Regions from separate parts of the Homo sapiens genome. Here regions 1, 2 and 3 are each linked to region 4. The links come from fine-mapping of genetic effects on gene expression. A gene starts in region 4. Each other region holds a variant in brackets. All regions are shown on one strand. Distances are between the middles of the regions.

Region 1 (8,109 bases), 23 kb after region 4:
AACTTTCTAAATTGATTGAGACCTGCCTCAGATACTTTTTGTTTTACAATGAAAAGAGTATAATTGGATTATTTGTAACATAAAGGAAAAGTGCTTGAGCAGATGTATATCCCATTCACTCTTAAGTGATTATTATCCATTGCTTGCCTGTATCAAAATATCTCATGCAACTCATAAATACATGTACCTATCATGTACCCACAAAAATTAAAAATTAAAAAAAAACCCAAGCAGACAAAAAAGCTCTGCTCCAAGGTAGAGCTTCTCCAATTAGATAATATATGTGTACATATACATACATATATATATGGTAAACCAAAAGAAAATTCTAAGTCCCCCCAACTGACTGAATGGATCCTCCTCTTAGCCAAGGGGACCCAAAGGAATCTGAAAAACCAGTTCAGGCCATCACAGGAAGGGGAAGGTAGGACATATTCATTATACCCGCCTCCCTTTGAAGTTCAGGCACAACTGACCAGCATTAATATGAAAACAGGAATTCTAAGACTGACAGAACAGGCTCTGTAGCAATAAGCCAGCAAGTTCCAAACAGACTCTAGTATAGCATCACGTGACAGATAGTAGGCCCTGAAGAAAGCGAAAGTATTTTACCCCAAAATATATTTATTTGATATATTTTGAGATGGTCCTGCAAAGCTGTCTCTTGTGAGGGAAATTTGCATTCTGTAGAGAATCTCCTTCCTTTACTAGGTCTTTCTGAATAGTCTGACCGACCTTTAAAGTTCCATAGGAAACATTCACATCTATTGTCTCTGAATTCTCCTACTTGGAGGCTTCATCTACATGACAAAAACCTTGGTTTCCACAACCCACCCCTCCCCAGTTACCTTCACTCAAGCTGATTTCAACTCTTCAGGCAGAGCTTACCCCTTTCAACCAATTGCCAATCAGGAAAATTTTAAATCCACCTATGACTTAGAAGCCTAACCCCCACCTTCAAGATGTCCCACCTTTCCTGGCTACACCAATATATACCTTACATGTATTGATTTATGTCTTTACCTGTAACTTCTGTCTCCCTAAAATGCATAAAATCAAGCTATAACCCAGCCACCTTGGGCACATGTCCTTAGGACCTCCTGAGGCTGTGTCATAGGTCATGACCCTTAACCTTGGCAAAATAAATCTCTAAATTGATTGAGACTTGTCTTAGATACTTTTTCCTTTCTAAAATATAAATACTGAGTTCTTTTTTGAGCATAGGCAAAAAGTACTCTATCATCTAAAAATCCTTAATGAATAAAAAATGTCATTATTACCAAACTATACCTTGCTTTTTCTTAATCCTTAATGAATGAAAAATGTCATTATTACCAATCTATACCTTGACTTTTCTTAATTTTATTGTTAAAAGCAGGAGAGAACAGAGGTGACCACAATTCTCTATAAAGCAGTATGTGCCTGATGGTATTAGACCGAAGAGAGTTGTGATAGGATATACTGACCCCAAGTGCCTATTTTGAGTTCTCTTAAATAATAGAACTCTGATATCTGAACACAAATATAATCTTGTCCACAGAAAATGATCATTCTCAGAACTATAACACCGCACAGTTTTCACTGCACTTTTTAATATGTGTAATTCCACACCTTATTTTCATTTTTCCTACAGTTAAAAAGTGCACAAAATTGTGACTCTGTAGGTAGCTTCACTGACTTCTTTGTACTAACAGAAGATTCACTCATATTGTGACAATTTGGCTAAGGCTGCTGGTCAGGTCCACTAATAATGGCCACGGTCCTCCATCTTTCCATTTCTCCCCAGCTGCGCTCTTTAAATCTTTTCGTCCAATTAACAGAACAAGTCTCTGTGAACAGAACTTAATCATTCAGTGGTTACTAGGTAACCTGTCCCCATAGCTTAAGAAGAGCATTCCATCTATTCTTCCACTGTCAATCAATCTCCACAACAGTACATTTGGGAGGATGCTCACCCTAAAGCTTTGATAATCTCCACCGAATGCATTCTCTGTTTACAAGTGGCTTCACCATGAAAAACAAAGCAAAACAAAAAGCTTAACCAATCTGTTCATCTATCCTGATAATATCTTTTCCACTTAAAAAAATAGAATCTGAAGTTTTAACAGTTAAAGAATTTTTGAAAAGCTCTTATAAGTGCATCTACTATTCACAAACTGCCACGCACAAATCAATTTTTAAAAGCCATGATTTATGTAAGCTACCAATGAAAACCATTCTTTATTGATACTTTGCCTAGTCTTTCTAAGGGATTTCAGTCTCCACTCCAGTCACACTTTAGTTCTTTGTCTTGTTAGATGTCTGCCTGCAATATACAGAAACACTCTAAATTATTAGATTGAATGACATGAAATTGCTGTTTTATAAATAAAAAATTGTCAATTAGACAATATCACTTGGTTCTACCTAGTAGTTTGAAGTATTTGAAGAACACTATTAGAAACTTAGATTTAATTTAGACTAAATTAATTATTTCTTTAGAATATTTGAGTAAGTAATCTTAGAAAATGGAGGTGGGAGGGTGGTTCTTGACATCCTTAGACATGTTCATTCTCTGACTTAATTGAATTAAATGTGAGATTTCTCTTATCCTCTTTGAAGTCTTCCATTTCCTTGTCTGCAAACAACTTCTTAGTGTTCATTATGTTTTTAAACAAAATCTAAATTATCCAACAGTGTGAAAATGTGTTATGAAAACAGCCTATCATTCTGTAACGTTAAGTATTCACTGAAGTTTATACCTATAGGCAACCTGAGATTATGATAACATTGAGGTCACAATGAACACAGGAGCTATTAATATTTCCCACAGTGAAAGCACAGTCAAGATAGAAAGTTTGGTGGTGATCTGGGTACAGAAAGACTTCCTCTGTGTTATTTATAAGATGCAGAGTGAATGTTTCTGTACAATATCTGAACAAGGTAGAAGAAGTGATGTTCCGACACTCTTTAATTCAGTTTGTACACAAGGCTGGAGGTAAGCAAATATTTTCCCTTGTTTGTCAGAAAATTTAGGGGCTAGGAGGATGCTGGTGATTGCTAAGCAAAAGTTCTAATTTTGCAGAAAAAGCTATGGAGCCCAGAAAAGATAAGTAATTAGCCCACACAATTGGTCTTTATGACTCTTGATTTCGTGCTCATTCCACTAAATCAGGAAATAGGCAGGAAGACAATTATTTCAGTGACTTGTCCTTAGGCGTGTTCACTCTCTTATGCATGTGCTACCTAAAATAATAGAAAAATGATTTTCATATGCAATTGGGGATGTATAAAATGGAAAAGATCAATGAGAATTTGCTTCAGTCTTTGGTCTTAGGCAAACCTGTACCTAAGCTGTCCTAGATAAGTAAGAATATGTATATTTTGAAGTTATACATTTTTTTTGTAAAAGAGCAACATGTATTATTCTGAACACGGTTGAGTCCAATTTTCTTCTACTCTGGAGATGATTACTTTATCGTAATCCAGGGGGACTGTCATTTGTATTGATTTAGAAACATTTTACTGGAGAATTATCCCTCAGAAAGCTTCCCTTTTTCAAGGATAGCATAAAGAATAACACTAATGATGTTTTGTAAAGTAAATACTGCCACATGTTATTTCAATAAATATTAAGGGGCACCTACTACGTGCAAGGCTACTTGGGTCACGTTTCCCCCTGGGATTCTACGGAACAACAGTACTTTCTCCAGTTCATTTACATCCCCTTCAGTGATGCTCTGGGATTTACCTGCTTTGAATAGAATCACTGGAAGCTGGGGGTCTATAGGGATATTGTAAAGTGTCAGGAAGCACAGCAGCCATTGTTAAGTGTGTGTTGGAGTCAACCTGCTTTGAATTCTAGCTGTGCTTTTCCCCAGCAGTGTGGCCTTTACTAAGGGCCTCATTTCTTTATCTGCAAAATAGCATAATAATAGTGTACAATTCATGTGATTGTTAAGAGAATGACAGGAGGTAATACATTTAAATAACTTACCACTACTTTTGGCTGTCATAGTTTGGGTTCCTCTGGAACAAGAATTCAAGTACAAGTAGTTTATTTAGGAGATGGTCCAAATAAACACTAGAAGGGGGACATGGAAGTGAGAGAGAGAAGAGAAGGAAGCCAAAAAAGGAATGCTATCAAGCAAGTTACCACTGTGGGTAACTGGAACTCAATCCCACCAGGAAGGAGCTGGGAAACAGTACAGAACTCAGCAGTTATCCTACCCCAGGGGTGGGGAAGCTAGGGCATTGATCCACCATCTAACAACTGTACTTGTCTAAGGGCTGTAAGGGCCTTAGGTGGCTAATTCCCTGGCCTTCTGACTTGCCCTATTGGCATGTAAGTAAGTTTCCATGTTCAGAGAAAGCTGTAAGCAGTAAGGTGCACACACTGGCTGTTGAAGTTGGGATTGGCATCCAATAAAGTGGTAAGGGCTGAGGAGATGTGGGCTGAGCATCAGCGGTGTCTGCTGCCCAGGCAACAGGGACCATTAAACACACATTTACTCTTTGTAATTTAAAATATCATTAAGTGACCTTTTAGGTTATTTTCATATTGGCTATGCCTGGTGCAGAGAAGGCATTTGTTGTGAACACTTGTTTTTGACTGCCTAGCACCTTTTCCCTTGTCTTCCTGTGGGAAATTCATCCTAGGTCTTGATCTTCCCTC[C/T]TTCCCAGTCCCTTCTTTTCTTCTAGCTCTCTATTATCACAGGAAATGGGAATGGGATCCAGGAGAACACTCCCAGGCAAGCTGGCTTCAGGCATTCATTCCAGGTGGGTGTGGGGCCCTGGTCAGCACACCATCCTATCGGCAACCTCCCTGGGACATAGCTGCTAGAGATTCTAGTATTGACTTTTTCTGCTGCATCTGCTAAGCTGGAAGAGAGAGACAAAGAGACTCAGAACACCTCCTGAAGAGACTATTTTATCATCCAAATACAACTCTGGTTGAAGTGAGCTCTGCCTCTGGCCCTACCAGTTATATAAGCTGTATTAGTTTGTTCTCACGCTGCTAATAAAGACATACCTGAGACTGAGCAATTTATAAAGGGAAGGGGTTTAATTGACTTACAGTTCAGCATGGCTGGGGAGGCCTCAGGAAAGTTACAATTACAGATGAAGAGGAAGCAAACACGTCCTTCTTCACATGGAGACAGGAAGGAGAAGAATTAGAGAAGTGCAGAGTGAAGGGGGGAAAGGCCTATTACAAAACCATCAGATCTCACGAGATCTCACTATCATGAGAACAGCACAAAGGAACTGCCCTGGTCAAGTCAGTCACCTCCCACGAGGTCCCTTCCCCAACACGTGGGGATTACAATTTGGGTTACAATTCAAGATGAGATTTGGGTGGGGACACAGAGCCAGACCATATCATAAGCCAACAAATTCTTTTCTGTTGCTTGCAATGAAAGAATCGTACCTGTCAGAGCATTTAATATGTACCCATAGCACTTCATGCCCTCAGATTCTAAGACTTATCTTTTAGCACATCACCTTTCAGTGTAAGTTCCCTGGTAGTTATAAAAGCTGCTTAGCAAGATGTTGGAGGCAGGTATGTACTGCTGGCATCATTATATAGCAGAACATGCTTCCTCTCAGGTGAGGTTTTTTAATTTCATACATTATTGCTCAGTCACAGCATTAAAAAACTTTGAATTACCCCATAAGAAAGTCATTCACTTTGCAATTCTTTCAACCCTAATTACATCAAGGAGAAAGTCTCTGTTTGTTACTAGTGTGTCTTTAGCACCTCTCACCCTTGCTAATCTCCCTTTCTAACAAAGATCAAAGCTTGGGCTCAGGCCACAGTATTTAGATAAGATTTGAGAGTATCATCTTTGTTGTGCTCATTTATGGCAATTTCTACAGTAGTAATTGGGCTTGGTTTTCAAGATTTCAGTTACCCATGGTCGACCATGCTTCAACAATATTAAGTGGAAAATTCTGGAAATAAACACTTTCTAAGTTATAAATTGTGTGCTATTCTGAATAGCATGATGAAACCTTGCACTGTCCTGCTTTGTCCCATGTGGGATGTGAATCCTCCCTTTGTCCAGTGTCTCCACGCTGTCTCCACTTCCCACTAATGAGTCACTTAGTAGCCCTCTCAATGATCATCTCACATCATCACAAGAAGAGTGAGTACAGTACAATGAGATGTTTACAGAGAGAGAGAGAACCTAAATTCATATAACTTTTGTTACTGTATATTGTTAGGGTTGTCCTATTTTATTGTTATTGTTGTTAATCTATTCCTGTGTCTAATGTATAAATTAAGCTTCATCGTAGGTAGTACGTATGGGAAAAGACAGTGTGTGTTTAGGGTTTCGTACTATCCATGTTTCCAGGCATCCATTGGGGATCTTGGAATGCATTTTTCATGGCTAAGAAGGGAATACTGTACTGTTCTTCCAATTATAATTGAGCCAGTTTCTTTTAAAAATATGGTTAATTTTTAAAGTGAGTAAATTCAAGGGAAAACTATAAAGTAAATAATAGTACAGGTGGTATAACAATATGGCAAAAGCCATGTAGGTGGTACTTAGAAGTCTTAGCTTTGGGAATCACTTGCTTAGTATAGTGGTATCCCTGTTTCCAGATGGAGGAAAGAGGGAGTAGACAAGGATCTGTTCAAATTGGCATAGGCTGCTTCACTGGTGTGATTTTGACTAAAGGACAAATTTGGTTCATTGAGGAAGGAGTCTCAATTCATTTGCGGGTAAAAACAAAGAACACTTATTTTTCCCAACCACTATTTTCAACGCTGCTCTAACACAGTCCCCTCCTCACTGGGTGACAGGGGCTCTTTATAACACTTCAGCCTGATTCTTTAGCTTTTTGTCATTTTCAGTAATTAAAAGTCACTTTCAGTTTTTAAGACTCAGCTCTGTTTATTTAAACTTTAATTTTTTTTCAGATCCAAAGCTCTTCTCCCCCACTCCTCCCAGCATTGGCTAGACCAGTGGGCACCAGGGCTGGCATTTGAGGGGGCATGATCTGCTTTCATATAACCCCTTCTTCCTCCCTCCATGCACCTGCTTCTCTGATGCTGAGCTGGAGAAGGAAAAGGAACAAGAAAGACCCAGCTCCTTATTTGACTTGTCTTTACGTAGCTCTCATGGGTGGTTGACACCGTTGTTGTCTGAGGGTTCAATGTAGACAAGCGATGGCTCTAGCATGCCCCTCTGATGGCAGCCTCCCCAAGCAGCTTCCCCAGATGTTGGTAATATGTTGTGAGATTTGACTCCAAATGAAGACCCTCGGTCCGCATATTCCCCCACTGCTTCAGTGTGCTTGCCTCCTTGACCCCTGCTACAGCAATCCCCAGCTAGAGACTGTAGGCCACAGACTCACAGACTTACAAGTACCTGTGGGATCCTTTTCTGTACTTCTTGGGATCTGGAACTATGGAAGGGATGCAAAGAAAGGAAGTGGCCTCTCTCTGTCTTACCACCCTCCATCATTCCTTGTCTTCTTAATTCATTCCCCTCCACCTGGATCACAGGGGCAGGTGAGCAGATCCACTGACTAATGTAGACATTAAACCAGAGAGTGGAATCACATTTCCCCTTTTTGTTGGCACCTACAAAAGAATGGTTCTCTTGGGACCTGCCTCCCTTGGTTTTCACACTGCTATAAAGAAATACCTGATACCGGGTAATTTATTTTAAAAAAGAGATTTAATTGACTCACAATTCTTCGTGGCTGGGGAGGCCTCGGGAAACTTGCAATCATGGCGGAAGGGGAAGCAGGCATGTCTCACATAGCAGCAGGCGAGAGAGGGAAGTAAGAGCAAAGGGGAAGAGCCCCTTATAAAACCATCAGATCTCATGAGAAGTAACTCACTATCATGAGAACAACATGGGGGAAATGTCACCCATAATCCAATCACCTCCCTCCCTCCATATGTGGGGATTACAGGTCCCTCCCTCAGCACATGGGGATAACAGCTCGAGATGAGATTTGGGTGGGGACACAGAACCAAACTACATCAGAATCTGAGTCCCTGATACTATGGAAGCTCATACCAACCTAGAAGGGCTACTATCTTCAGACTTTCAGAAGAGAGAACTAAATGTTCCATTACTTACAGTTATACATAATCCTAGCCAATCACAGTCA
Region 2 (8,109 bases), 800 kb before region 4:
CCGTTCAGTGACTACCACTCAGCGATAGCCATAAGGAATGAACTATTGACACCCCATCTTTGATGAATAACAGAAGGTGGGGGGGTGGGGGGTCATAGGTGGATGCTCTACAGATCCAAAGCACCCCCACAAGTGTGCCTTGGGAATGTCCCACTTAGGTTCTCCCACATGTGTGATTATTGATGGAATACTTTTCCTTTAAGGTTTTCTTTCTCTCTTTCTGTTTTCTTTCTTTCACTATGTCTTCTTTTTATTTGTGTCCCTCTACAATTTCCTTTAATGTGTTTTGGAAGAATACTGAAATATTTTCTTTAATTTTCTGGCCATATAAATAGGAAAAGACTCCAGACTTCCTCCCTGTGTTTCTTCTTGTTCTGGGCCCAGCAAACCTCCTGGCCACCGAGAAAAACTTTGGGTACGAGTCACCTGCGGAGGCAGGGACCATGTAGCCAGGCCAACCATGGTCACCTGTAGCACTTTCGTTCTCAATAATGGCAGAGACCTTTTGCTTGGCAGGAAAAAATCGTTTTTCTTGGCTACCCCCTGAGAAAGGAAAAGGCCCTTTCTAAAACGAGGGGCAAGAGGGAAAGGCCTGAGGCCTTAACAGCCCCCCTTAGGAACTGCTTGTCCCTTGTGACTTGTGAGATGCCAGCAAGAATGCTGGGGCTGTGAGTGCTGCTTGCAGGCAACAGGCCCTGTGGGGGACCAAGGGACCCGGGGCAGTGGGAGCCACAGGGGCAGTGGGAAGAACTTTTAGTTTTTTAGCTGAATGGTTTTATATATAAATATATATATTTTTCTATATCTTATATATTTATATATATTAAATATATAAAATTCAACTAATAATATATAAACTATTATATATGATAGTATACATATATTAACTATTATATAATAGTATAAACTATTAACCATTATATATAGTAGTGTATATTAACTATTATATATAATAGTATATATAAACTATATAAGATTTATATAGTTTATATTATATAGTTTATATAGCTTATATTATATAGTTTATATTACATATAACATATGTGTTATATATTGTATAATTCATATGTTATAAAGTTATATACAACTATTATAAACTAATATATAGTTTATAAAATGTTAACTATTATATGTAATAGTATATATAAACTATAGTTTATATATAATATATAATTTATGTATTATAAACTATTACAACTATTATAAACTGATATTTTGTAGTTTGTATATTAACTTATATAAAATAGTTAATATATAAACTGTATACTATTACATATAACTATATATTTTATTAATGATCATATATAATAGTATGCATAGTTTATTATATAGTATATATAAGTACTTAATATATACTGTTATATATAATGGTTAATATAATATACTTAATATATAATATTCATATACATATTTAATGTGCATTGTAGTTAATATATTAATATATAATATATATTAATATCAGTGGGAAATGGTGACTGTTTAAGGTATTTCACCCCTGGAGTTGCCAAATATATAAACTGTATATATACTATTATATATAATAGCTAATATAGTATGTATATTATTATATATAATAGTTTATATATGTTAGTTGATGATTAATGATTAATTATATTAGCTAATATATATTATATATTATAGTTATATATATGTGTATATATATATATACTAATATCAGTGGGAAATGGTGACTGTTTTAGGAATTTCACCCCTAGGGTTGCCAAATAAGTTAATTTACTTGTTTCTCATATAATGTACTTATTAAAATAAACTTTTAGTCCATTATGGAATGTAAGTAACAGGCCTCCTGCAGGCAAAATAGAAAAAAAACTCTTCAAAGTCAAGTTCTATTTTTTTTTTTTTTTGAGACCCTGTTTTCGGGAACCAGCATTATCCATATCATTAATCGCTTGTGGGCCTCTTTTTACCAATCATGTTACTCCTTTGGAATTAAACCACACATATAAAGTATGAAAAATGTACTTTTTTAAACATTAAAAAAGTAATTTTCTAGCATAATATCCAAAATAAGGTGCCATGGAGCCATTAGTAGCAAATTGAATTTTTTGGTATGTAATTTGTACAAAAACTGACAAGTGCGAGCCCCTTGTCCCCCATCATTAGTCATTGGGTTTGGCGGACACAGAGGCAGTAATCTGCAAGGGAAGGCATTTTGATGTCGACTTCAATTGCACACTTCATTTATTTGGACAGGGCACAGGCGGCAGCTTCTGTCACGCGGCATCACCGCACTATTAGTGAATTTCGCCCCAGGGCAGCTGGGACGCTGCGCTGGGGCAGATGTTCTTTTCAGCCTATTCAGTGACCATTCTTGGGGGTTGTTTACTGTTGCCATGGTGACCTTCATTTCCATAGCAGCAGAGCTGCTGTTTCTCAGAGGAAAATGAATTTAGTTATAAAAGGATAATATTTTTCTCTGTCTCTATATAACCTGCCATCTGTCAACTGGTGGATCAGTAAGGATTCAGAAACCTATTAAGAATTATAGCAATGGAGTGATGAGTATTTTTTTTTTACCCATATTAAAAGCAATAATAGAAGTGGAAGCAAACATTGTGCCCTCAACATGACAACTTTACTTTTTTCTTTATATTTTAAGTGCTTTTTTTTAATGCCTTCACCACATCCACACCACTGTTACAAACACATAACCTCGTGAAACACAATTTACATTCTGCTGACAAATGGAAATGACCACATGTCTTGTTTGTATCTCACTAGATGCAGGTGTATTTAATGCTTTCTTGATGCTGTGAGCTTTCCCCAGTTCATTAAAGATTCATATGGCTGAACTTCCTATTGTCACTGACTCTCCTGCTCCTCACCCCACGGTAAAAGCTGTGGGGGTGCATAGATCAGCAATTTATCAGGAACATACAGTGCAAATTATAAAATTAACAAAATGAGAAGAAACCATGCTTGTGTGATGAAAAATTTACTAACATGATCCTTAAATCTCATTCTAGAATACCTTTTCTTCTTCTCAAATCCCACTGGGAAGAAAGTCGCCTTTGGGATAGCTCATCCAGTTGCTGGATATTTTTTTTTTCTCTGTTGCATTCATAAACTGTAACTTGCAGGGGGAAAAACACACACACACACCGGCCCCGTTGTAAATAATGTTATTTATTGGTTGATTTTTCCAGATCCTGACATTGATGCTGCCAGTGCCATGATGCTTTTGAATACTCCCCCTGAGATACAAGCAGGTTGTGAGTAGATATTTCTATAGCCTACAGCACCATAGTTTGTGAACTTAACCTTCTCATTTATACACCAGGTCATAGGAAGAACTAATGCTAAAGTAGAACTTCCCTTATAGAATCACTTTAAAAGCTACATAAGTGCATGATTACATGCATATGCATATAAACATGCAGCCATGCATATGTATGAATGAATGCATAGGTGTGTTTCCAAGATGAGAAAGTTCTTATATAATTTCAGGACTTAAGACTTGGGGAAAGGGAAACAGATCCTTTAATGAGTCCCAGTGAAGAGGCCTTCCTTGCTCCTGCAGGTATTGTTCCTGTGAGTTTGTAGTTTCTCCTAGAAGAGGCTACATGGGGTCAACTTAACCCTAATGGACCTGAGCAGTACCCATTTTTAGAAATTTCTTTCTCTTCTGGGACCTCATCGCCAGGCTGCCATTTTGGAGAAGAGTCTAGTGAAATAGGCCTGTTGGAGCCTGGAATATCTTTGAAATGAAACCACGCTACCAGCTTGGACCATTTCTATCCAGCCTCCCAGGCTGCCCCAGATAGCAGGGTAGGGCTGTTTAGCTAAGCAGGACTCCCATCCTCACCTTCTTTTTGTTGGCCTTCAACAATGTCAAGTTTGAGACAACATTTCCTTACTGAGACTTCTCTTCTCACCACCTGAGGTTTTTACCATCTCTGGAGATAGTCTACCATGGTTTTAGAAAGATCTCTTCCCAAGGGATGAAGAGTGACTTCAAACAAAGATATCTGTCCCTTCCTTCTCCCCACTCGAGGTCAGTACCAGTGCCCACATCCCATACCCAGCTAGAACCCTGTTGAACACACAGACAGCTGGTTTACCAAGGTCTGCTCAGCTTGTTGTTAGGACATTGCTGTGTTACAGCCTCTTACTGATGAAACAC[G/A]GTAGTGAGGAAATAGTGACATGAAGCAGCAGACGCCACTACAACACCACCGCTTAGGGGCTGGCACTCACCTATCTCCTTCTTATGGCTAGGCCTTCAGCTCATTTTGGGTTCTGGCTCTCTGAGGGCCACATGGCTTGCTGAGCAGTGGGAAGTCCCTGCCTTTGGAGTGGATGCTACTTCACACAGGAAAACATCCATCCTCAGACCCAAAACAGGTGCCTTTTGTTAGTATTGGACTACGTGGAGTTCCAGGCCATCCGTCATAGCCCCTCTGCTTGTCCCAGCCTTCCTGACAACTTTAGGATATTTGACTCCAACCTTTCTTATTTGTTCCTATTTTAAAAGACCCAAGAAATTCAGCTGAGCATTCTCAGGGAGACTTGTTCCTCTGCCTGGAGCTGCCATTACCTGTTCCGAACAGTCTAGAGTTCTGATTCTCTCTTTCCAAACTCAGACCTCCAGCCATTGCAATGTTGGGCTGCCTACACCTCTGACATGCAAACACCACTGCTAAGCAGATGTGTCACTGGCCTAGCTCTATAACTAGCAGTTAACCTGGAGTGTGGTTTTTAAATGATGTTTCATATTTCAGAGAAATGTATATGTTTTTAAATTTTTTTTTTTAAATAAACTTCCATTCTTAGATGGCATTGCAGGAAAAGTACAGACCAGATTGTAATCAAGTTCCAGGCTGAAAAGATTTCTAAAATTAAGTTGCATAACTCAACCCAGTGGAAACATACTGATTTCATCAGAGCCATGTAAGATTCGAGCACCTTCCTTTGCACCCAGCCACTACACAGTGATCATTAGTTTCACAAAAATACTTCCAGCTGGTTGCTGAAGTTCAGAGGGAAAATGGGACCATGACCTTCTGCTAGAAGAGGCTATATGGGGCCAGCTTAAACGTAATGGACCGGAGCAGTACCCATTTTTAGAAATTTCTGTCTCTTCTGGGACCTCATCACCAAGCTGCCATTTTGGAGAAGAGTCTGGTGAAGCAGGCCTGCTGGAGCCTGGAATATCTTTGAAATGAAACCAAGCCAGGCAAGGGGACTGATTGATCCTTCACAGATCCTCAGCAGCTTCCATAAACGTCCATGATTACTGGATTCTTGAGCATAGGTAGGAAAGGAAAAAGGCTTCTCCTGATGAGTTGACAAGTGAGTTGTTTTCAGTGTTCGCCTCCCCTCTCCAACTCTGTAATACTCAGACTGTAAATACTTCTTTTTCCAGGGTAGCCACGGTCCTATTTACATTGAAATGCTGAATTTGAGTTTTACAAGCTCAGTGTTCATGTTTTGAAGCTGTAGGCTCATTTTTAGAAGGCTTTTTTTTAGAAGGCTATTACCGCTGTGTGAGAAATCCAGCCACAGCCTTCATGAAAGCCCCAGGCCAAGAACGGGGCTCCAAGACAGTGGAAGGAAAGAACCCGGGGTGCCTACAAAGGTCACAGAAGGAGACGCTCATGGACAGGAATAACAGAGAAGTAAATGTGAAGACTGGGCAGAAAGTAGGGAGTCTACCTTTGCATTCACCGTCCCATCTGACCGCCAGCCCTGGTTCAATGCCCTGGAGGTCAAGGGCAAGTACAGTCAAGGAGCAGGTTGTAAGGACCCCAAGGATTGGAGCAGTTCCTTAGCAAGGGAGTGAAGATGCATGGAGCGTCTTCTCTGTGCACTTGGGAAGCCAGCTGGCCCATCCTCCCCATAAACCCAACCAGAGGAATGTATCTGCAGCTTGTGGTTAGCTCTTTCTGGCTTCACTCTTTCTCCGTGCCCCCTACCCCCGCCACCTTTCTTTTCATTTTATATTGCATAACGTTATTTGCCTTGGGATTTGAGGCAGTCCTTTGCCTTCTTAAGGGAGAAGCATTACAGGCAGAATGATTAGGCAGTCATCCCCTGCCCTGCCGGCATCGCCCAAGGCCTGGAAAAAGTGAGAGGCTATTCCTGTGCAAAAATGGTTAAAGGCAACAGCCAGCCAGCCACAGTGATGGTGTGTGGGCAGCCTATGTAGGGGTGTTTGTGTGCCTGTGTCCCAGTGTGGATATATCCCAGGTCTTCTCTAGGTTGAGGGGTCCTGCCACTGCCCATGAGTGGAGAGTGTGGCTTCGGAGAGCAACACATTTCCTGTCTGCGCAGAGCCTGCCTGTATTCCCCCGTGGGCTGGTGCTATGGCTGGGCTCTGTTGATAGAGCTTCCTCGTGCGGTGCTATTTATAGCCCCTTGTTTTCACCTCTTGGGCTGCTAGATGCCCCTGCTTGCATGGGGGCCACCAACCTAGTCTCTGCTGCTGTTCTGCTCCCAGCAGATAGAGGCTGGCCTGGATAGCTGGAAGGCTTTTCCTTTGTCCTCACCCTTCATAGCCACTCCAGGTCACCAGATGGCAGCCACTTAGATCTTTTCTCTTCCTCCTACCCTTGCTCAGCATCTGTAAAGGTAGCTCAAGGCCGGCAGACTGGCCACAGTCCAGGGTCTGAAGCTGACTAGGTTGCACAAAGGAAATGGCTCAGACTCTGGTGAGAGCCCCAGGCAGAGCAAGCCTCTTTATCATTGGAGGGTCCGTGTTGCCCCAAGGGAGCCCAGCACACCATGTCTTGCTTGGGCTGGAGTCCCTAGGGGTCCCTCCACCTCTCATTTCAGTCTAATGCTTCACTTGCAGTGCAGCGGCAGTGTGCACCTAATAAAAACCTCAGGCTACAACATTTTGTCCTCCTGGCAGCATCCGCTGTGCATGTGACATTAGCCCTTTTAGACTTTGCCCGTTTGCAGCATAGGAAACATTCTGCAAGGAGAGCCACCATGTCTCACGCGCTCTATAGGATGCTGCCTTCAGAACAGTCAGCATGGGACATGGCTGGCTCATTACCCCCTGGACTTTGGATTATGCTCCAGTCAAATCCATCTGCCTACCCCACCCTCTCCACCCTCAAAATGGCTATGTAGATTCATTCCAGCTTCTAGTATCTCCTTCAGTACCTGCTTTGCAGTTCCCGTTTGACAAGCCCCGTGAGTCAGCTTTAACCCCAATGGAGGACTTGTTAGTCAGGAGAAGCCAGATCTCCATTACTCATCTTCAAAGGCTTATATAATCCCTGGTTGGAAGGTTCCCAGAGACAAACTAGATAATAAACAAAACAACAAAATGGAACGAGGGAAGGGGAGGGATTGGGGGAAGGCGTTCCTCCCCCTGCCTGGAACTGGGATGTATGTCAGACACACCAGGCACAGCAGAGGGAAGACAACTAGGAAATAGGCTGTGTCTCCCCGTGCCAGCCCCCTCCCCAGTGTGCTTCCAAGTAAGCAGGTGGAAAGGCTGACTTTAGGAAAGGGAAGGATTAGCGGAATCACCTGCTGCTCAGCTTATGGCCTCTGAGAGAGTTAGCCAGGGCTGCCCTCCAAAGGCAGCGGCAAGAGCTCAGAGGTTAATTTTAGAAGTTGTGAAAAACCAAGGAAGCTAAGCCTCAGGAGGGGAGCTGGGGAAGTGCTGAGGGACAATGTAGCGTGGAGGAGTTTGTCTTGGACCTTAGACTTTTTTCTTTTTAAGATTCTCAGGATTGCGTTATCCCATTTAGAACATAGCATCTACAATGAGCAGTGCTGCTCTGTTTGGCTCTCTTCTTATGTGTGAAGGTTGCCCTCTTGCTAGTTAAAACCAGAAAGCTTAAGAGTCCCTCTCTAACTGCAGAGAACGTGGCTGATGGCAAGTGTGGGGAAGTGTGGCGCCAATGTCCCTCATCCTGAGAGCCTCAGGGGTGGGTATTCTCTCATCTAAAAGATAAATACGTAACTGGCCTAACCTGCAAGGATGATGCTAGAGGCCTGGGCCTTGTCTGGAGAGAGCCACAAATCCGAGGAAGAAGTTGACTTTCAACGTCCAGCCCTTTTGATGTCTTACATAGCTGGAGGCCAGTGCACTTCAGTACATCAGGTGCGTCAGATTGGCTGTAAAGGTTTTGG
Region 3 (8,109 bases), 58 kb before region 4:
GAAATAACTAAAATCAGAGCAGAACTGAAGGAAATAGAGACACAAAAAACCCTTCAAAAAATTAATTAATCCAGGAGCTGGTTTTTTGAAAGGATCAACAAAATTGATAGACTGCTAGCAAGACTAATAAACAAAAAAAGAGAGAAGAATCAAATAGATGCAATAAAAAATGATAAAGGGGATATCACCACCGATCCCACAGAAATACAAACTACCATCAGAGAATACTACAAACACCTCTATGCAAATAAACTAGAAAATCTAGAAGAAATGGATAAATTCCTGGACACATACACCCTCCCAAGACTAAACCAGGAAAAGTTGAATCTCTGAATAGACCAATAACAGGATCTGAAATTGTGGCAATAATCAATAGCTTACCAACCAAAGAGTCCAGGACCAGATGGATTCACAGCCGAATTCTACCAGAGGTACAAGGAGGAACTGGTACCATTCCTTCTGAAACTATTCCAATCCATAGAAAAAGAGGGAATCCTCCCTAACTCATTTTATGAGGCCAGCATCATCCTGATACCAAAGCCGGACAGAGATACAACCAAAAAAGAGAATTTTAGACCAATATCCTTGATGAACATTGATACAAAAATCCTCAATAAAATACTGGCAAACCGAATCCAGCAGCACATCAAAAAGCTTATCCACCATGATCAAGTGGGCTTCATCCCTGGGATGCAAGGCTGGTTCAATATACGCAAATCAATAAAGGTAATCCAGCATATAAACAGAACCAAAGACAAAAAACACATGATTATCTCAATAGATGCAGAAAAGGCCTTTGACAAAATTCAACAACCTTTCATACTAAAAACTCTCAATAAATTAGGTATTGATGGGACGTATTTCAAAATAATAAGAGCTATCTATGACAAACCCACAGCCAATATCATACTGAATGGGCAAAAACTGGAAGCATTCCCTTTGAAAACTGGCACAAGACAGGGATGCCCTCTCTCACCACTCCTATTCAACACAGTGTTGGAAGTTCTGGCCAGGGCAATTGGGCAGGAGAAGGAAATAAAGGGTATTCAGTTAGGAAAAGAGGAAGTCAAACTGTCCCTGTTTGCAGATGACATGATTGTATATCTAGAAAACCCCATTGTCTCAGCCCAAAATCTCCTTAAGCTGATAAGCAACTTCAGCAAAGTCTCTGGATACAAAATCAATGTACAAAAATCACAAGCATTCTTATACACCAACAACAGACAAACAGAGAGCCAAATCATGAGTGAACTCCCATTCACAATTGCTTCAAAGAGAATAAAATACCTAGGAATCCAACTTACAAGGGATGTGAAGGACCTCTTCAAGGAGAACTACAAACCACTGCTCAAGGAAATAAAAGAGGATACAAACAAGTGGAAGAACATTCCATGCTCATGGGTAGGAAGAATCAATATTGTGAAAATGGCCATACTGCCCAAGGTAATTTACAGATTCAATGCCATCCCCATCAAGCTACCAATGACTTTCTTCACAGAACTGGAAAAAACTACTTTAAAGTTCATATGGAACCAAAAAAGAGCCTGCATCGCCAAGTCAATCCTAAGCCAAAAGAACAAAGCTGGAGGCATCACACTACCTGACTTCATACTATACTACAAGGCTACAGTAACAAAAACAGCATGGTACTGGTACCAAAACAGAGATATAGATCAATGGAACAGAACAGAGGCCTCAGAAATAACGCCGCATATCTACAACTATCTGATCTTTGACAAACCTGAGGAAAACAAGCAATGGGGAAAGGATTCCCTATTTAATAAATGGTGCTGGGAAAACTGGCTAGCCATATGTAGAAAGCTGAAACTGGATCCCTTCCTTACACCTTATACGAAAATCAGTTCAGGATGGATTAAAGACTTAAACGTTAGACCTAAAACCATAAAAACCCTAGAAGAAAACCTAGGCATTACCATTCAGGACATAGGCATGGGCAAGGACTTCATGTCTAAAACACCAAAAGCAATGGCAACAAAAGCCAAAATTGACAAATGGGATCTAATTAAACTAAAGAGCTTCTGCACAGCAAAAGAAACTACCATCAGAGTGAACAGGCAACCTAAAAAATGGGAGAAAATTTTCACAACCTACTCATCTGACAAAGGGCTAATATCCAGAATCTACAACGAACTCAAACAAATTTACAAGAAAAAAACAAACAACCCCATTAAAAAGTGGGCAAAGGACATGAACAGACACTTCTCAAAAGAAGACATTTATGCAGCCAAAAAACACATGAAAAACTGCTCACCATCACTGGCCATCAGAGATATGCAAATCAAAACCACAATGAGATACCATCTCACACCAGTTAGAATGGCGATCATTAAAAAGTCAGGAAACAACAGGTGCTGGAGAGGATGTGGAGAAATAGGAACACTTTTACACTGTTGGTGGGACTGTAAACTAGTTCAACCATTGTGAAAGTCAGTGTGGCGATTCCTCAGGGATCTAGAACTAGAAATACCATTTGACCCAGCCATCCCATTACTGGGTATATACCCAAAGGACTATAAATCATGCTGCTATAAAGACACATGCACACGTATGTTTATTGCGGCATTATTCACAATAGCAAAGACTTGGAACCAACCCAAATGTCCATCAATGATAGACTGGATTAAGAAAATGTGGCACATACACACCATGCAATACTATGCAGCCATAAAAAAGGATGAGTTTATGTCCTTTGTGGGAACATGGATGAAGCTGGAAACCATCATTCTGAGCAAACTATCTCAAGGACAGAAAACCAAACACCACATGTTCTCACTCATAGGTGGGAATTGAACAATGAGAACACATGGACACAGGAAAGGGAACATCACACTCTGGGAACTGTTGTGGGGTCGTGGGGTCGGGGGAGGGATGGCATTGGGAGATATACCTAATGCTAGATGACCAGTTAGTGGGTGCAGCGCACCAGCATGGCACATGTATACATATGTAACTAACCTGCACATTGTGCACATGTACCCTAAAACTTAAAGTATAATAATAATAAATAAATAAATAAATACAAGAAATAAGCAGGACATATTACAACCGATACCACAGAAACAAAAAAGATGATTCAAGGCTACTATGAACAGCTTTACATGCATAAACTAGAAAACCTAGAGGAGATGGATACATTCCTGGAAATATACAACCCTCCTAGATTAAACAGGAAGAAACAGAAAACTCTAAACAGACCAATAACGAGCAGTGAGATTGAAATGGTAATTTAAAAATTACCAACAAAAATAGGCTGGGCACAGTGGCTCACGCCTGTAATCCCAACACTTTGGGAGGCCAAGGCGGGTGGACCACGAGGTCAGGAGTTCAAGACCAGTCTGGCCAACATGGTGAAACCATGTCTCTACTAAAAATACAAAAATTAGCTGGGCGCAGTGGCAGGCACCTGTAATTCCAGCTACTTGGGAGGCTGAGGCAGGAGAGTTGCTTGAAACCAAGAGGCAGAGGTTGCAGCAGTGAGCTGAGATCGCACCACTGCACTCCAGCCTAGGTGACAGAGCGAGACTCTATCTCAAAAAAAAAAAAAAAAAA[AT/T]TACTAACAAAAAACCAAAAATTCCAGGACCAGATGAATTCACAGCTGAATTCTATCAGACATTCAAAGAAGAATTGGTACCAATCCTATGGACACTATTCCAAAAGATAAAGAGGGAATCCTCCCTAAATCATTCTATGAAGCCATGATCACCCTAATACCAAAACCAGGAAAGGACATATCAAAAAAACAAAACTATGGACCAACATCCCTGATGAACACAGATGCAAAAATCCTCAACGAAATCCTAGCTAACCGAATCCAACAGCATATCAAAAAGATAATCCATCACGATCAAGTGGGTTTCATACCAGGGCTGCAGGGATGGTTTAACATCTGAAAATCAATAAATGTGATATACCACATAAACAGAATTAAAAACAAAAATCACATGATCATCTGAATAGACCAGATAAAGCATTTGACAAAATCCAGCATCCCTTTATGATTAAAACCCTCAGCAAAATCAGCATAGAAGGAACATACCTTCTATGCTGGAGTTTGAGACAGCCTGGCCAACATGGCCCACATGGTGAAACCCCGTCTCTACTAAAATTACAAACTACAAACTAAAACTACAAAAATTAGCTGGGCATGGTGGCAGGTGCCTGTAATCTCAGCTACTTGGGAGGCTGAGGTCGGAGAATCGCTTGAACCCAGGAGGCAGAAGTTGCAGTGAGCCCAGATCACACCACTGCACTCCAGCCTGGGTGACAGAGTGAGACTCTGCCTCAAAAACAAACAAACAAACAAACAAACAAACAAACAGGCATATAGACCAAAGGAATGGAATAAACAACCCAGAAATGTAGCCACATATTTGCAGTCAGCTGACTGTCAACAAAGCTATTCAACAAATGGTGCTGGGACAATTGGTAAGCCACGTGTAGAAGAATGAAACTCGATCCTCATCTCTCACCTTATGGAAAAATCAACTCAAGATGGATCAAAGACTTAAATCTAAGACCTGAAACTATAAAAATTCTAGAATATAACATCAGAAAAGCCTTTCTAGACACTGGCTTAGGCAAAGTGTTCATGACCAAGAACCCAAACGCAAATGCATCAAAAACAGAGATAAACAGATGATACTTAGGTAAACTAAAATGATTCTGCATAGCAAAAGAAATAATCAGTAAACAGACAACCCACAGAGTGAAGAAAATCTTTGCAATCTATACATCTGACAAAGGACTAATATCCAGAATCTACAAGTAACTCAAACAAATCAGCAAGAAACAAAAACAATCCCATCAACAATGGGCTAAGGACATGAATAGACAATTCTCAAAAGAAGATATACAAATAGCCAATAAACATATGAAAAAATGTTCAACATCACTAATTATCAAGGAACTGCAAATCAAAACCACAACGCGATACCACCTTACTGTTCCAAGAATGGCCATAATCAAAAAATAAAAAAATAGTAGATATTGGTGTGGATGTGGTGAACAGGGAACACTTTTACACTGTTAGTGGGAATGTATACTAGTGCAACCACTATGGAAAACAGTGTGGAGATTCCTTAAAGAACTAAAGGTAGATCTACCATTTGATCCAGCAATCCCACTCCTGGGTATCTACCCAGAGGAAAAGAAGTCATTATACAAAAAAGATAACTTGCACACGCATGTTTATAGGAGTACAATTCACAATTGCAAAAATATGGAACCAGCCCATATGCCCATCGATCAACAAGTGGATAATGAAAATGTGATGTGTGTATATATATACACACACACACACACAATTGAATACTACTCAGCCATAAAAAGGAATGAAATAATGGCATTTGCAGCAACCTAGATGGAATTGGAGACCATTATTCTAAGTGAAGTAACTCAGGAATGGAAAACCAAACATTGTATGTTCTCACTCATAAGTGGGAGCTAAGCTATGAGGATGCAAAGGCATAAGAATAATACAATGGACTTTGGGGGCTGAGGGGAAAGGGTAGGCGGGGAGTGAGGGATAAAAGACTACACATTGGGTACAATGTACACTGCTTAGGTGCTGGGTGCACCAAAATCTCAGAAGTCACCAATGAAGAACTTATTCATGTAACCAAACATCACCTGTTCCCAAAATCCTACTGAAATAAAAAATAAATAGCAAAAAAAAAAGTAGCAGCAGCCTGTATTTATCATGCAAGCTCATTTAATTCTTGTATTCTATGATAAAGGCTCTATAATTACCCCTCTCCAAGATATGAGAAAACACACACAGGCTCAGTAACCCAGCTCAAAGTCACAGCTCAAAAGGAATCAAATCCAGGCAACCTGGCTCAGAAGACACACTCGCATTCATCATGCCTCTCAGCCTCAGTTGATGGGCTGTGTGAGAAGGAAGAGGGGAAGATATAAAGATGTTGCTTGATGCTGTAACAAGATGTCTTAGGGATAAAAAAAGATGCTGCTAGAAGAGTTTAAGTGCTGTTTCCCAAACTTACCACCCACATCCTACCTTCATACTATAATACTTTTGCCACATTCAAGAACCATTTTTAATATTTCTTTAAATCAACTCACCTTTTAAAACTTAAAGGGAAACTAAAGGATAACAACAAATTGTCCTAATAGGTATCCAAATTAGGATGGGTCATGGCCCCAGAGACAAGAAGCTGTACCCAGAGTTAGAGCATGAAGACTGAATGTCAAATAGGGCAGGTCTGGGGCTTGGACCAAAGTGTTGGAGAACAGCAGCCAGGAGATAGTTTCTGAGAATGCCTCCGGAAAGACAGATGGTAGCTCCAGCCAAGGAAGGAAAATTTGGGCCAGGCCAGTAGGTCTGGGGTAGTTACATGGGGAATGGGAAGAGGGGGTTTGTGAAAGAGTGAGGCTGGGACTGAAGAAAGGAACCCTGGGGCTGAGGAACAACAGAACCCAAGAAGCAACTAGAGGGGTAAAGATCTAACAGATGGGGAGACCCAGGCTGGGGACCAAGAATAGAGCCAAGGTTATTTCAGGAGGTTTAAGAGGACTGCAAGAGGGGATAGACGGTGTTGCTTACAGGGTTAAAGGGAAGAAGTCCAGAGGTGAGGGCTGAGGGGAAGGTGTGCCAAAAAAGGGTTGTAGCAGGGTGAGTTGGGGATTCCGACAGTGGAGGTGAAAAGTGGGTTGGGTGCTCAGTCCCACCATATTGTGCTTTGCAGGTTGTACCTGTGTCTTATCCTGAAGACAGTGGTGATGGTCAGCATCCCATGAATGAGATGGACCTGTCATCCACATACCACTAAAATCAACTCTCAGGTCTCCAGTGGTAAGTACCACCCTTTGGGAAACACTGCTATGGCCAAAGGATGATAAAAACCCGAGTTAAAGAACAGGATACTTGGAAGTCACTGTTAAGTTTTTAGAAGAATACCTGGGTTGTATTTTTTTAAATATAAAATTAAAATATAGCTTATAAAAACAAAATGGGTTATTGTTTTTATCCTCCACAGTATCTAGGCATGAAACTTTGTACATAATGGGCACACAAATATTCAATTATATTATTGTAAATAGTTAAAAAGGTATAATTAGAGATGAATCTGCTGGGCCATGTTCTAATAGTAAGGGTCTCATTCATGAGCTACAAGGGTAGGAGAGGGCTTCAGACAGGTCTGACTAAATGTTTGCACTCACAACAAGAGACAACATCTCAGCCAGCTGACAGAATTCCCTGGGTCACTGACAACTGAAAGGTCCTTGAGGCTTTAGATATTGCAGGAAAAGTGAGAAAAACAAAATTAAAGATATTGCAGACAAGGTCCAACGCTTCAAGACTCACACCAGATCATAAACCATTTCCCATAGCCTACAAAACCGCTTATGTCTGGGTAAAATATGTTCCTCTGAAAATATAGGTAAAATATGTTTTCCTCTGAAAAGTGATTTTAGAAATTGTGGCCAGCAGGTCCTCAGATGACCCCAGTGATTCCTGTGTTCTGGCATTCACACCCTTGTATATATTCCCAACCCTTAAGTGTGGGCAAGACCTGTGACTTGCTTCTACCCAAAAGAACACGGTAAAGGTGATAGAAAGTCACTCCTGTGATTATGTTACATTATATAAGACTCCATCTTGTTAGCAGAATCTCTCTGGTTTTCCTGATATCCTTAAAAAAGCAAGCAGCCACGTTATAATTTCCCTAAGGAAAGGGCCAAGTGGCAGAGAACTATAGGCAGCCTCTAGCCACTGGTCAGCAAGACAACGAAGCCCTCAAATCTATAACTGCAAGGAGGATAATTCTGCCAACAAGCCTCTTAATGAAAACATGGCCCCAGCCACTGCCTTGATTGTGGGGTAGCCTTGTGAGACCCAGGACAGAGGACCCAACTAAGCTGTGCCTACACTCCTGATCCACAAAACTGTGGGATAAATAATAAATGTGTGGCACATTAGGCCGCTAGGTTTCTGGTAACTTATTATTGCAGCACAGAAAACCAATAGAGAAATCTTATACATACATTTTAAAAAAGGAAGAAAAGTAATATTGAGTTACTGGCCATTTGAGGTATTTATTAATGAAGATTAAACATCCAAAGGGCAGT
Region 4 (8,109 bases):
TTTCATTGTTGTTCACTTGTTTGTTTAGTGACTTGGCTAAGCAATTTATCAAAGTCTATTTCCCATGGAATGTGAAGCCTCCGATATCACTCCTCGGTGATGAAGCTTTGGGCAAGTGCACAATCACGCCTTCTCTAATGAGGTCTGAACCCCAGTCTTTGGGAGAAACTCTCTTTCAAATTGTCCTTCTTTGAGTACTTTCCCGTAATTCTAGGTACCAAATACAGTTTTCTTATCTTTTTAATTAATTCATTAATTTGTTTTATATACTAGAGACAGGGTCTTGCTATGTTACCCAGGCTGATTACAAACCACTGACCTCAAGTGATGCTCCTGCCTCAGCCTCCTAAAATGCTGAGATTACAGGCATGAGCTGACACGCCCAGCCCCTTACATCTTATAGTTACTCTTTTATGAAAGTATAACAATTCTTTAACTTTTCCTTGTATAAAAATCACTGTATGGTTTCTATCTCCTGACTGGACTGGACCCAGAATGAGCCAAAGGGGCATGGAGAAGTAGCCTCAAACCAAATGCCAAGGAAAAGAACATCATTCTCTAACTATTAGGACTAAAATCTTGTCAATGAGATTGAAGGTCTTAGTGGTGAAATTCACTGGTATATGAGAGCAGCCCATTTTCCTACACAATTTGATTAAAATAGCCAGAAGAAAGTCCAGTGAGGAAAGATGAAAGTGTTTCTTGTGGCAAGGTTTCTCTGGAAAACCAAAGGTTTGGAAATCTACCATTGATAAGTGTCTCTATGAGACCAACAGATCAAAACAATTTTTTTTTTGAGATGGAGTCTTGCTCTGTTGCCCAGGCTGGAGGGCAGTGGCATGATCTTGGCTCACTGCAACCTCCCCCTCCCAGGTTCAAGTGATTCTCCTGCCTTAGCCTCCCGAGTAGCTGGGACTACAGGCGCACGCCACCATGCCTGGCTAATTTTTGTATTTTTTGGTGGAGACAGGGTTTAATTCTGTTGCCCAGGCTGGTCTCAAACTCCTGACCTCAAGTGATCCACCTGCCTCAGCCTCCCAGAGTGCTGGGAAAAAATTTTTTTTCAAGTTACTTTCAGTAATATACTAATAGGTTGTCTCCTCTCCTTCCTAAAGGTCATTGATATTAGAGTGAATGGCAGTTTGTTATTCTCAATCTTTTCTTCACCTTCCCCCATAGGAAGCTGGAAACCATGCCTTATATATACCTAGTCCAAGCCCCCATTTTATAAATAACTGAGGCCCAGGGACGTACAGTGACATGCTGAAGATTACCTAGTTAGTTAGTAGGAAACAAAGATTACAAACAAGACTAACCGTTTTTCAGTCTGGTGCTGTACTATACCACCATTTAGAAGGCTTGCCTTACAAAAGAATGTCTAAAACGTGATTACAGTAAGAGCATGACAAAAGATAATTTTTCTTTAGATGTTTTAATATTTTATGCTCTGAAATAACTAAAAGCACCTCCTAATGAAATCTAAGAAATTTATTCTCAATTATTTTAGCTGTGTCTAAAATTATTTATGGTTTCCTATTAATTTACAGTACATGAAAGCTGACTGCCCTGGTTATTTGGTGATTACATTTATTTTAAAAATTCAAAATAACAGTATTTGACATTATCATATATTATTTCCTAAAAATGAAGCTAATTAAATTGTGCAAGTTGTAAAAATATAAACCTTTTTACATTTGGCATGAACCCAATTTTTAAAATAATTCAATAAACAAATACTGACAACTTACTAAATCTACCATACTCTAAATGTTACATTTATCCTTTCCCCCTGCCCATCCCTACCATGGGATAGTAAGTAAATGCATTGGCTTCAGATTTATATTCTTCACCTAGATTCAAATCCTGTTCTGCCGCTGTGATCTTGGCAAGTTATTTGTGATCTTTTGCTTTAGTTTCTTCACTATGAAATAAGGCTAATGCCTATCAAGGTATTTTTGTACATTAAATGAGATAATTTGGAAATAGTTCCTAGTACATAGCAAGGGTTTAATGTTAGTTTATATGCAAAATTTCTTAAGATCATAAAGCGTTTTGATTTGCTTTTTCTGAAACCTAGGTTGGTGAAGTGTCAGAATAGTTTGCTGATCAATGAATAGTTATCTCCTACATTCGGAGTAGCACTTATTTTGATCAATGACTATATAATAAAGGCAGACTCATTCAAAGAAAGACATCAAGGAATCATCTAGCAGCTTGGTTTAAAGGCAGTCTTTTAAATAGATAAAAACACTGAATTGGGAGGGGCGGGGAGTCTATAAAGATTGCCTCATTTGACTCGAGGAAAGAATGATACTGGCTCAGAAAGTGTGAAAATGCAAATTATTTGGTTTGGGCCGATTTGTAGATATTTAAGATTGTATTTCCCCACCCCCAACCCCACCACATGATGTCCACCTGACTCAAGAAATCAGTAGAGAACAGGTGTATATGGTGAGTACGGATTGCTGCTAAAACTGCAGTCCGCTGACCAGCAACACCGCATTACTTGGAATTTATTATAAATGCAAAATCTCAGCCACCCCCAAGGGACCTACTGAATCATAATCTGCATTTTAACATGACCCTGAGGGGATTCCTATTCACAGAAAGTTACAGAAACCCTGGGTTACTCAGTAGCTTTGGGGGAGGTAGTTCGTTACTGGGAGATTTCGTATTTACTGACCACTTCAAATGCGCCAGGATCTTCTCTATATTATCTGCATTTAATCCTCAAGAACTCCATGGCCTGGGTATTTGACCCTCACGTTCAAGAGATAAGAAAACTGAGGGTCGTCTCCATGGAGAGCAGAGGGGTTTGATTTGGGGCCCGGGGAGGTCTGACTCCAAAGACCAAACCTGGTTCCTCTGCCTGGGAGCTACTGAGGTTTTAAAGGCTGCACGACCCTGAGTTCAGGAGACAGGGGCCCCTGGTGTCAGGGCGACAAATTCAGGGCAAAGAAGCGGACCTGCGAGGCTGGCAAGCAGGCTCTCCCTCTTCCTTTGCGCAGGCCTGGGCAGCTCCAGGCAACACTGGCGACTCAGCCAGGGGTAGGAAGCGCCCCAAGGGGCGGCCTTGCACTCAGCTGCCCGGACCCGAGGCTGGGAGCGCCGCCTGGAGCGAGGGGCGAGGCGGCGGTAGCCCCTGACAGCTGCCCTTTACCTCTCCGGCTGCCATCCATGCTTAGTCCTCTTGCAGCCGCCGCAGGGACACGCTGTATCCCCTTCGGTCCTTCCCGCGGCCGGGCCCAGCCCCGGCAGTGGAGGACTGGAAAAGAGGAGCCGACGGGGGCTGCAGCAGCAGGGAAACCGTTGCCAGGCCGTTGCTAAGGGCTGGGTCCAGTGAGTCGCTATTGTGACGTCACGGCGCAGGGGACGTGCGTTCCGCAGCCCCGCCTGCGGGATACCCGGTACTAGGAGGACAGTTGCGGACGGAGAGACCTGGCGGGGAAGGGGCATCGAGCCCCAGTCTGTTGCTCTGGGATCCTGCCAGTCTTCCGCAGAGCGACCTCCTGTCAGGATCCGAGTCACCAGCACCTGGCAGGCTCTGTCCCTGCGGGAAGAGCAGGGAGAGGAGGTGGACTCATCTGGCATCCACGTCCCCTGGGTCCCGGAGAAAAGTGAAACACAAATGTTAGCTGAGGTCAGGGTAACATTTAACCAGTTCCAAATAATTAAATTTCAAAGCAGTCCGTGAACTTTTGGATTAGTGAAAATCCTAGGGGTGAAAAACATCTACATATTTACATCTTAATTCTTAACCTTAATAATAAGTTTGAATTTCCTTTCTGCTCGCCAAGCTTCCCCGCTCCTGTCCCTGCCTCCCTTTTATCGTAAGTTTCAATCCATTTTTATTTATAATGGAAGAGAGCTGCAACATGAATAAGGGGTTGATTTATTGATGGCTTTCTATAATTTGTTTAATTTTGAAGCAGTTACCTTTGAATCCTTGGAAATAACGTCAGATCAGGGTAGGAAGCATTCTGTCATGTAAGACTTCTCAGCCCAAATGTCCATTGACATTTTGGGCTGGTTGTATAATTCTCTGTTGTGGGGGTGCTGTCCCTATGAACTGTTTTGTAGCATCCCTGTCCTCCGTTTACTAGAAGCAAGTAGCTTCTCAGAAGCAGACCCCACCCACTCCACCTCCAATCCTGACAGTCATAAATGTCTCCAGACATTGTGAAATATTCCCTGGGGGGCAAAATCGCAACTCTGTTGAGAACCACTGCTGTAATGAAAAGAGTCCTGGTTTTGGAACCAGATATGTAGAACTTAATTCTAAATTTTTTGCTACTTACCAGCTTGATCTTGAATTAGTTTCTAAAACTTTCTGAGCCCCAGTTTTCTCTTTTCTAATGTAGATTGTGAAAGTTGTCAGAATCAAAAATAGAGTCACATGTGTTAGAAAACCTGACAAGTGGAACTGGAGAAGGCCATGAAGGAGAGTTCTCATCCATGAATGCCTGATAATAAAACTATCACAAAATACTGCGAAAACCACAACCTTGCACAAAGACCTCCACCTTACCCAAAAAGATACTTCTATGAGGACATCTGTCCAGCAATTGTCTGTCCAACCTTGAACTGACATCACCCTTGTTATTGATGCTTGGAGCCAAGGCTAATTACCTCAAAACAATTATGTAATCCTCTCCTTTTTTTATTTTTTAAAAAAACTTTTTTTTCCTTTAATTCCTTGAATATGCAAACAGTTTGCCATGGCACGCATATTCCTATTGCAATGCCCATTCCTGGGTAAATGTCATTTTCTTCTGTAGAGTTGAGGACTAAGCTCTAATTTTTTTATCTTGCCCAAATTCCTATCTAAGGTGTCTAGGGAGTCATGCCCTAGAAACCATAAATTCTTATCAGATGGGTTTTATTTGACTCTATATACCATGACTTACTTTCCAATCTGATTCTGGCATAATATTATGAGACAAGGAAAAAAAAATCAAAATATTTAACCCCAAGATATATTTCCTTGCCATATCTTGAAATTGCCCTGCAAAATCTCTTGTGGGAAAAAACCACATTCTATAGAGAATCTCTTTTCCCCTTTGTTTTCCTTCTTTCCTTTCCAAATCCAGGAGATAACCAACTAAGAGCCAGGCACCCTTTTAGGTCCGACAAGACAAATTTTACAATCTGCTCTCTCTCTGAGGTCTGCTATACTGAGAGCTTCCTCTGCACAATAAACTTGGTCTCCACAATCTTTTATCTTAACCCCAACATTTCCTTTTTATTGATCCCAGGCCTTCAGATAAACTCAACCAATTGTCAACCAGGAAATGTTTAAATTTACATACTCATTGAGTTGTCCCACCTTTCTGAACCAAACCAATGTATTTCTTATTTGATTGATGTCTCATGCCTCCCTAAAATGTATAAAACCAAGCTGCACCTCAACCACTTTGGGCACATGTTCTCAGGACCTCCTGAGGGTCACTCATATTTGGCTCAGAATAAATCTCTAAAAATATTTTACAGAGTTTGACTCTTTTCATCAACAGTCTACCTCTCTGTTGCTTGGGATGAAAAAATGATGCTACTAATTTTATAGTTAAAAGAATTAACAGTGCCTGGCAAATAAAAGAATGTATTCAATAAATGTTAGCTTTCTCTCTTCTGAGATTCCTATCTCAGCAGAGCTGGGTATCAGGGAATTCAGGCTTGAGGGAGTAAGTCAGAAACTCTGTAACAAGGAAGGAGAAATAAATCAGAAACCCGGTTATAATAACGCTTGAACCCCTGTTTTCCTAAAACCCAGGGTAGGCAGACAATGATTCAAAATTGGAGGCATGTTGAAGTGTGTGTGATGGCTCTGTGGCCCCAACAACAAAAGTAATTTGGAAGGATACAGGGGCAGGGAGTCAGATGTTATGCAGTCTATTAGTTCATTCTCACATTACTGTAAAGAACTACCTGAGACTGGGTAATTTATGAAGAAAAGAGGTTTAATTGACTCACAGTTCCATAGGCTGTACAGAAAGCATGGCTGGGGAGGCCTCAGGAAACACTATCATGGTGGAAGGGCAAAGGGGAAGCAAGTAGCTTCTTCACATGGCAGAGTAGGAGGGAGAGAGAGCGAAGAGGAAAGTGCTACACATGTTTTAACAAACATATCTCATGAGAACTCACTATCATGAGAACGACAAGGGGAAAATCCACCCCCATGATCCAATTACCTCTCACTAGGTACCTCCCCCAACATGGGGATTACAGTTCAACATGAAATTTGGAGGGGGACACAGAGCCAAATCATATCATGCAGAGAACAAAAACTCCTTCCTAGGTACTCATTATTGCCTGAAATCCATTTCTAAGATCATGAAGGCCTTTATTTCACTACTGGCAGCTAGCAAATACTTTGCATATAATAGGCCTCCAGTAAGCATTTGTTAAATTGAATTAGAAACAAGGAACCCAAGGCAAACACCCTTGGGATAAGCAACACAGTGACTTGACTCAGGGAAGGTGATACCAGCTCCTCTTAGAAAAGTAGACTTTAGGATGACAAGTAGATTTTGTTTTCAAGTAGAACGGGGGGGTGCGTGATCTGGAGAGGGCAGCAGAATGGGAGAAACTTCTGGAGACCATATTGTCTGGTACCCAACTTTGTCTGAAGCCATCTATTTCATTATTTCCCTTTCAATATTTTGTTCCAATTATTTCAAGAATGTGTGCATAATAGGGTCTATGTCTCTCAAATTTTAGCAATGAACATGTTATCCTAAGTGCAATTTAATTTGTCCTTTGCTTTGGCTCTATGTATGTAAACAAGAGAGAAGATTCTTTCTGGTTGCTATTCCCAGGAAATAATTCATGATCATGGGTGATGGATACAGCTGGTATGAGTTTATTATAGGGTGAGCTCCCAAGAAACACCCTTCTATTGGGAAAATCATCACCAGCTGCAATGGCCTTGGAGAGTAGGCATTCTGAAGACCTTTTGTTGAATATATATGTTTACACCTGAATTTCATGTTCTGAAATTATTCCAATGCTATAATCTTGTTATTGACATTTAGAAATCTGCATATGTGTTTTTGTTTGTTTATTTATTTATTTATTTTTGTAGAGACGAAATCTCGCTCCATCGCTCAGGCGGAGTGCGGTGGTGTGATCTTGACTCACTGCAACCTCCGCCTCCCGGATTCAAGCAATCCTCCTGCCTCAGCCTGCCGAGTAATTGGGACTACAGGTGCATGCCACCACACCCAGCTAATTTCTTTTGTATTTTAGTAGAGACGGGGTTTCGCTGTGTTGCTCAGGCTGGTCTTGAACTCCTGAGCTCAGGCAATCCACCCGCCTCAGCCTCCCAAAGTGCTGGATTACAGGCGTGAGCCACCATGCCTGGCTAATTTTTGTATTTTTAGTAGAGACAGGGTTTTGCCATGTTGGCCAGGCTGGTCTGAAACTCCAGGCCTAAAGTGATCCACCTGCCATAGCCTCCTAAAGTTCTGGGATTACAGGCATGAGCCACTGTGCCTGACCCATATGTGTGTTTTAGACGGAAATACTTTGTTTCCCTTAATGAATTGGCATGAACTAATCAATTACTGGGTTTCTTTTTTTGTATTAGCTTACAGGAACCTCAAAACTAAGATTTGTGCTCAGTTGAAATAAATATTCATAGCCTTTTAAAAATTTATCTCGTTAATTCCCTTTATTAGGAATATGACTTCTTCTTTTAATGGTTTAATTAGGCCTGTCTTATTGGATGAGCTCTAAGCCCTTTGGAAATGGGCTTTTATATATTTGAAATATACAATATATTTCAATTTTATATAAGTGAAATAAACTATATATTTTAATACCATAACCTATAGTTATGCAAATAATATATAGTTTATTGTTTATTCTGTTTTATTATATATTATTATTTTAAGCATTATGTTATTATTATATATTTAATCTATGTCTTTATGGATGACCCTTAGTTTCATAATTCAGAGGATTCCTGGAATTTATATTTGTGTGTTTAGAAAATGTTCCAGTAAATACAGTGAAAACAACAAGAAGCCAAAGTTCAAAACAACATTTTTCTATTTATTGAGTTATTGCGAACATATTTTAACCCTTAAAGTTCCTGAAAGACAAAAATGA

Which allele goes with the higher level. Positions count from the first base shown, and alleles are read on the strand shown. Sizes are in standard deviations (SD) of each study's normalised expression. Not every link is listed here.
With allele T in place of C in region 1, the expression in esophagus muscle of the gene that starts at base 3,341 in region 4 is higher (moderate effect, 0.42 SD a copy in GTEx).
As copies of AT replace T in region 3, the expression in monocytes of the gene that starts at base 3,341 in region 4 goes down (moderate effect, 0.58 SD a copy in Quach 2016).

The links. PIP is the estimated chance that this variant, and not a neighbour inherited with it, causes the effect.
Region 1: its variant is fine-mapped to the expression of SPATA7 in esophagus muscle (GTEx, PIP above 0.99). The same link has a PIP of 0.9 or more in aorta, cerebral cortex, fibroblasts, monocytes, prefrontal cortex and sigmoid colon.
Region 2: its variant is fine-mapped to the expression of SPATA7 in pancreas (GTEx, PIP 0.96).
Region 3: its variant is fine-mapped to the expression of SPATA7 in monocytes (Quach 2016, PIP 0.95).

The regions. Positions count from the first base shown.
Region 1 is chr14:88,357,635-88,365,743 of GRCh38, reverse strand. No RefSeq gene overlaps it. Among named protein-coding and RNA genes, the nearest start is that of SPATA7, 24 kb to the left of the region's middle. RefSeq lists a silencer at 685-979 and an enhancer at 316-1,123. The variant C/T (reference allele first, on the strand shown) is at 4,655.
Region 2 is chr14:89,185,508-89,193,616 of GRCh38, reverse strand. The region is part of intron 4 of FOXN3 (forkhead box N3); the gene reads left to right. Among named protein-coding and RNA genes, the nearest start is that of FOXN3-AS3, 160 kb to the left of the region's middle. RefSeq lists a silencer at 5,079-5,263. The variant G/A (reference allele first, on the strand shown) is at 4,145.
Region 3 is chr14:88,438,403-88,446,511 of GRCh38, reverse strand. It overlaps SPATA7 (spermatogenesis associated 7), which reads right to left. Exons shown (of 12, transcript NM_018418.5): 12 at 8,052-8,109. The coding sequence ends at 8,090. Among named protein-coding and RNA genes, the nearest start is that of SPATA7, 57 kb to the right of the region's middle. The variant AT/T (reference allele first, on the strand shown) is at 3,571.
Region 4 is chr14:88,380,889-88,388,997 of GRCh38, reverse strand. It overlaps SPATA7 (spermatogenesis associated 7), which reads right to left and starts at 3,341. Exons shown (of 12, transcript NM_018418.5): 1 at 3,161-3,341. The coding sequence starts at 3,179. RefSeq lists enhancers at 3,149-3,468, 3,479-3,548, 3,579-3,658.